Regions from separate parts of the Homo sapiens genome. Here region 1 is reported to be linked to region 2. Evidence: microRNA targets listed by miRTarBase, many of them from high-throughput screens and not tested one by one. Region 2 holds a microRNA gene; the other region holds the end of a gene's coding sequence.

Evidence for each region. The annotated mature microRNA hsa-miR-3692-3p reads GUUCCACACUGACACUGCAGAAGU and lies in region 2 at 1,853-1,876, opposite strand. An mRNA with a match to its seed (bases 2 to 7 or 8) in the 3' UTR can be bound and repressed. Matches are read on the target gene's strand: a 7mer-m8 pairs with bases 2 to 8, a 7mer-A1 pairs with bases 2 to 7 and ends in A, and an 8mer does both.
Region 1: miRTarBase lists LIFR as a target of hsa-miR-3692-3p. Seed matches in the 3' UTR shown: 8mer at 1,941-1,948 and 8mer at 2,048-2,055.

What each region holds. Positions count from the first base shown.
Region 1 is chr5:38,478,892-38,481,964 of GRCh38, reverse strand. It overlaps LIFR (LIF receptor subunit alpha), which reads left to right. Exons shown (of 20, transcript NM_001127671.2): 20 at 1-3,073. The coding sequence ends at 370. Among named protein-coding and RNA genes, the nearest start is that of EGFLAM-AS5, 12 kb to the right of the region's middle.
Region 2 is chr6:157,527,914-157,531,050 of GRCh38, reverse strand. It overlaps MIR3692 (microRNA 3692), which reads right to left and starts at 1,919; the gene lies at 1,851-1,919. All of the region lies in intron 1 of ZDHHC14 (zDHHC palmitoyltransferase 14), which reads right to left. RefSeq lists an enhancer at 1-302.

The DNA.
Region 1 (3,073 bases), not on the chromosome of region 2:
TGATGTTCAGTCGATGTATCAGCCTCAAGCAAAACCAGAAGAAGAACAAGAAAATGACCCTGTAGGAGGGGCAGGCTATAAGCCACAGATGCACCTCCCCATTAATTCTACTGTGGAAGATATAGCTGCAGAAGAGGACTTAGATAAAACTGCGGGTTACAGACCTCAGGCCAATGTAAATACATGGAATTTAGTGTCTCCAGACTCTCCTAGATCCATAGACAGCAACAGTGAGATTGTCTCATTTGGAAGTCCATGCTCCATTAATTCCCGACAATTTTTGATTCCTCCTAAAGATGAAGACTCTCCTAAATCTAATGGAGGAGGGTGGTCCTTTACAAACTTTTTTCAGAACAAACCAAACGATTAACAGTGTCACCGTGTCACTTCAGTCAGCCATCTCAATAAGCTCTTACTGCTAGTGTTGCTACATCAGCACTGGGCATTCTTGGAGGGATCCTGTGAAGTATTGTTAGGAGGTGAACTTCACTACATGTTAAGTTACACTGAAAGTGTTCATGTGCTTTTAATGTAGTCTAAAAGCCAAAGTATAGTGACTCAGAATCCTCAATCCACAAAACTCAAGATTGGGAGCTCTTTGTGATCAAGCCAAAGAATTCTCATGTACTCTACCTTCAAGAAGCATTTCAAGGCTAATACCTACTTGTACGTACATGTAAAACAAATCCCGCCGCAACTGTTTTCTGTTCTGTTGTTTGTGGTTTTCTCATGTGTATACTTGGTGGAATTGTAAGTGGATTTGCAGGCCAGGGAGAAAATGTCCAAGTAACAGGTGAAGTTTATTTGCCTGACGTTTACTCCTTTCTAGATGAAAACCAAGCACAGATTTTAAAACTTCTAAGATTATTCTCCTCTATCCACAGCATTCACAAAAATTAATATAATTTTTAATGTAGTGACAGCGATTTAGTGTTTTGTTTGATAAAGTATGCTTATTTCTGTGCCTACTGTATAATGGTTATCAAACAGTTGTCTCAGGGGTACAAACTTTGAAAACAAGTGTGACACTGACCAGCCCAAATCATAATCATGTTTTCTTGCTGTGATAGGTTTTGCAAGCCTTTTCATTATTTTTTAGCTTTTATGCTTGCTTCCATTATTTCAGTTGGTTGCCCTAATATTTAAAATTTACACTTCTAAGACTAGAGACCCACATTTTTTAAAAATCATTTTATTTTGTGATACAGTGACAGCTTTATATGAGCAAATTCAATATTATTCATAAGCATGTAATTCCAGTGACTTACTATGTGAGATGACTACTAAGCAATATCTAGCAGCGTTAGCTGTCCATATAGTTCTGATTGGATTTCGTTCCTCCTGAGGAGACCATGCCGTTGAGCTTGGCTACCCAGGCAGTGGTGATCTTTGACACCTTCTGGTGGATGTTCCTCCCACTCATGAGTCTTTTCATCATGCCACATTATCTGATCCAGTCCTCACATTTTTAAATATAAAACTAAAGAGAGAATGCTTCTTACAGGAACAGTTACCCAAGGGCTGTTTCTTAGTAACTGTCATAAACTGATCTGAATCCATGGGCATACCTGTGTTGCAGGTGCAGCAATTGCTTGGTGAGCTGTGCAGAATTGATTGCCTTCAGCACAGCATCCTCTGCCCACCCTTGTTTCTCATAAGCGATGTCTGGAGTGATTGTGGTTCTTGGAAAAGCAGAAGGAAAAACTAAAAAGTGTATCTTGTATTTTCCCTGCCCTCAGGTTGCCTATGTATTTTACCTTTTCATATTTAAGGCAAAAGTACTTGAAAATTTTAAGTGTCCGAATAAGATATGTCTTTTTTGTTTGTTTTTTTTGGTTGTTTGTTTGTTTTTTATCATCTGAGATTCTGTAATGTATTTGCAAATAATGGATCAATTAATTTTTTTTGAAGCTCATATTGTATCTTTTTAAAAACCATGTTGTGGAAAAAAGCCAGAGTGACAAGTGACAAAATCTATTTAGGTTCTCTGTGTATGAATCCTGATTTTAACTGCTAGGATTCAGCTAAATTTCTGAGCTTTATGATCTGTGGAAATTTGGAATGAAATGCAATTCATTTTGTACATACATAGTATATTAAAACTATATAATAGTTCATAGAAATGTTCAGTAATGAAAAATATATCCAATCAGAGCCATCCCTAAAGAGTGTTCTCTTGTCTTCCTTTGTATCCTCTTTGGCTCCTTCCCTTAGCTTCCACCCCAGACATCAGACCTGGGGCTGCCTTCTCTCCCTGCCAAAGCTTGCTGTTAGCATTGTCTGCTTGCCCTCAACTCCTGCCTTGTTCCCTGTTGAAATGTATCAATCCCGTACTTTATCTCTCCAGGACAAGGATAAGTGTGGCTACAGTAAAAGTTTATTGCTCTAAACGGCGCTAACCTGAGATAATGAGAAAAGGCCAGAAGAGATTGTTTGATCTCTGTCTGTCAATATATATGCATTTCAACTGTGACCATCTGGATCCAGGGCCCTTTCTAACCTATATAACGACTCATTTGTTTGGTTAATGATGAATATCACTGGGGCTCTTAAGTCCTTTCGTTCTATCCAAGACTTCATTGTTTTTTTCTGTATGAAAAAAGTGCAGAATATCACTCACCTTTCCCCTACTTTTGGATCCCCTACACGAGGATCACTAGCTTAATGAGAAGCAGAGTAACGCTATTAAGTCTGGGCAAGCTCCTTATAAGTTGCTGTGTGCTTAAAAGAATGTGATTTATGTCTGGGGCCAAAGCAGTTTTCCTTCTTTTCCCTCATTGAATTCAAGACAGCTAGACCCTTGTGTAGATCCCAGGATATTACCTCTACTCCCCCCAACCTGTGTGTGTAGGGAGAGTAACAACACGGGAAGAGGGGAGGGAAGTTGGAAGGAGATTGGTCACATGTTCAGTTGTCTGAGATACTGGTAAATGTGCGCTGTTTGTCAATGAAGGTTGCATGCCTGCATTTACAAGGTGGTCTCATACTGATTGTGCTCTGTCCAGTTAGATTCGTGGCTTCTCCCTTGGAAGCTACAATTAAGGACTAGTTAGAAGCAGAGGCTAGATGTGTT
Region 2 (3,137 bases):
CTCTGCTGACAGCGCTCCTCTGAGCTAACGATCTCTCTCCTGGGGGAGAAAAAGGGCCACCTTCTTTCTTTTGCAAAGTAGGAAGAATTTCTAAGTAAATTTTGCTTTACAATGTTTCCCTAAGAATAAAGAGGAATTGAAGATTTTTTTTTTAACATATCCGTCATCATAAACCTCAAGGAATTAGATAATATAGGACCAATACAGGTTAGAAATATCCAGTCGTTCAGACAGAGACACATGTGAGTGCAGAAGGCTAAGCTATTTCACCCACAAACTCACTAAACAATGTTGTTTCCAATAGCAGAGACATCATAATTTGAAAAATAGTACATAATAATTATGCAAAATGGAAATAAGGTGCTTTTGAGTAGAAAAGAAAAAAGGCTACAAAGGTATTTCAGGAGAAAATGGTTCTATTTCCAAAAAGGGGAGAAATAAAACAAGGTTAACAGCTTAAAGCCCACGAGCCCTGTGACACCAAGTTGGAGACTATCAGGCAAAGACAGCTTCAAAAGTGCATATTTGGTAGAAAAATGAACAAAATGAAATTCACTGAAAGTCTTTGGATATTGGGTTGCTGTTGGGGCTGCCGATTCATTTTTTCCTTCTCTAAAGGGACACAGCATTCATTCACAGATGATTCCTTTATCTCACCTAAAACAATGCCCGTGGTATCGACTATTATCCTTGGCAAAGTGCCTTTGCATTAAAACATGGTGACAGCATTTCTCGGCCCTGATGTTGGGGAGAGTTCCTACCATGTAATTATCCAGCTCAATTAGAAGACAAGGTCAGAACAAACAGATCCAGAGGGAAGGTCCATGCCTGCTAGACACACAGATGTGGTCCCACATCATTTTCTTTTTTCTTTTTTTCTTTTTAGGTAGCCTGTTACTGTTTCATACACATGGTTTTCAAAGTAACAGGCAGCCAGATAGTAAGACTGCAGGGAGCAAATGAAAATTCACATTTTTTTGATTGAGTACCTATATTGCAGGCAGTTTCACATATAACATTTCATATAATGTCTACAGAAATGTACACAGCTAATTGTCTATGACATTGGTATTACTGAGACCATCTCACAGATGAGGAAACTAAGGTTCATTAATTTGACTGATAAGACTTATAAGAGGTTCATTACTTTGAGCCTGGTTTAGCTAATAAGTTTCATAACCAGAAGTCAATCAGATGTGGCCGCCATCAAAGCCCATGGGCCCAAGGCATGGTCTCTCAATTGTACCACAATGAGGCCTACACTTCTGTTTTGCACTCTACACATTTTCTTAGTGGAATACAATAACAGCTGTACCTGTTTTCACCTTTTTATAAGGATCTCAATGATCCTCATTAAATGTAATTAAGAACACAGTGAAACCTGAAACTATTCTGCGTGAAGGTGCCTTGTCCAGTCTGGGGAGAAGACAAGCTCGGAGTCTTGGGTGACAAAGTCGCTCATTGATGGATTGCCAGCAGTCTGGTAGTAACGCCTTAGTGACTGAAGGTCAAGAACATTTCTCTTGGGCTCCGCTTCCCAATTCCAGTTGAAGAATAACAAGCTCTGTGGTTTCTACACAACAGAAACCACAGATTCCCAGGGGCCCTGTCAATCAAGCTTGACACTAAATGGTGATGACTGCTCCTGTTATTGCAAAATACATGTATACTAAACAAAGACCGTACTGGTTAGTTTTGCTTAAATACTGGAGGATTCTGACCAGTACAATGCTAAAACATAAACTTTCATTTATGAAAAAAGATAAACTTTCTAAAATTCCCAGGTTATACTCAAGAAGTAACTTGCTCCCTGTGAAGAGAGGGTGGGGTTGCAGAGACTCCAGAGATCTCCACTTCTGCAGTGTCAGTGTGGAACTGTATCTATTGCTCCAGTATCCACTCCTGACCAGCAGGAATGGCAAAGAACCTCAGAAGAGTACAGGTGGTAGGTGCTGAGTAAAACTGGAAGTCTGAGTGTGTCTCCTAGACACTAGCAACTACAAGGATATACTTTCAATGAAACTCTTTGAACTCATTGGGAGAAACCTGAAAAATACCATGTGCTGTTGAGGAATTAATGCCCACTCCCACCCCCAGTCTTCATCTAATTATGCTTTTATAATTAATTAATTAATGCCCACTCCCACCCCCAGTCTTCATCTAATTGTGCTTTTTAAATTAATTAATTAATGCCCACTCCCACCCCCAGTCTTCATCTAATTGTGCTTTTTTAATTAATTAATTAATGCCCACTCTCACCCCCAGTCTTCATCTAATTGTGCTTTTTAATTATTTTATTTTATTTTATTTTATTTTTTTGAGATGAAGTCTTGCTCTGTCGCCCAGTCTGGAGTGCAGTGGTGCGACCTCGGCTCACTACAAGCTCCGCCTCCCGGGTTTTTGCCATTCTCCTGCCTCAACCTCCCGAGTAGCTGGGACTACAGGCACCTGCCACCACGCCTGGCTAATTTCTTTGTATTTTTAGTAGAGACAGGGTTTCACCATGTTAGCCAGGATGGTCTCGATCTCCTGACCTCGTGATCTGCCCGCCTCAGCCTCCCAAAGTGCTGGGATTACAGGTGTGAGCCACTGCGCCCACCCTATCGTGCTTTTTAAATTAATTGATTAATGCCCACTCCCATCCCCAGTCTTCATCTACTTGTGCTTTTCCAAGTATATTCATCTATGGTTAAACTTTCATATCATTTCTTTACTTTTCTTTTAAGCCACACACTTCTGAGATTAAAAAACAACAACAACAAAAAAACTGTTCAGCTCATTTTGAAATACAACAGAAGTATTCCTGAGGACTTCCCCATGGCAAACACGATTATTAACTGATTACTAAAAAGAGAAGGGCAAAAGGCAAAATAATGGACATTAGATCTAGGGAAAAATGGTGGAAACAACCTTAAAGAATACGGTGGAGAAACATCTGGAAAAAGCATATTTAATTAGAGAACACCAAGAGGGACTGAAACAAAGGAAATCATGCCTGGCTGGCCTGATGGAAGGCTTGGAAGGTGTGACTGCCATGAAAGCTACAATCAATTAAATAAGTGCCACCTTTCTTGAATTTTGCCAAGCAGATGGCAAAGTTGGAGAATCAACAGGGAAACTGCAGAGTGATACAATGG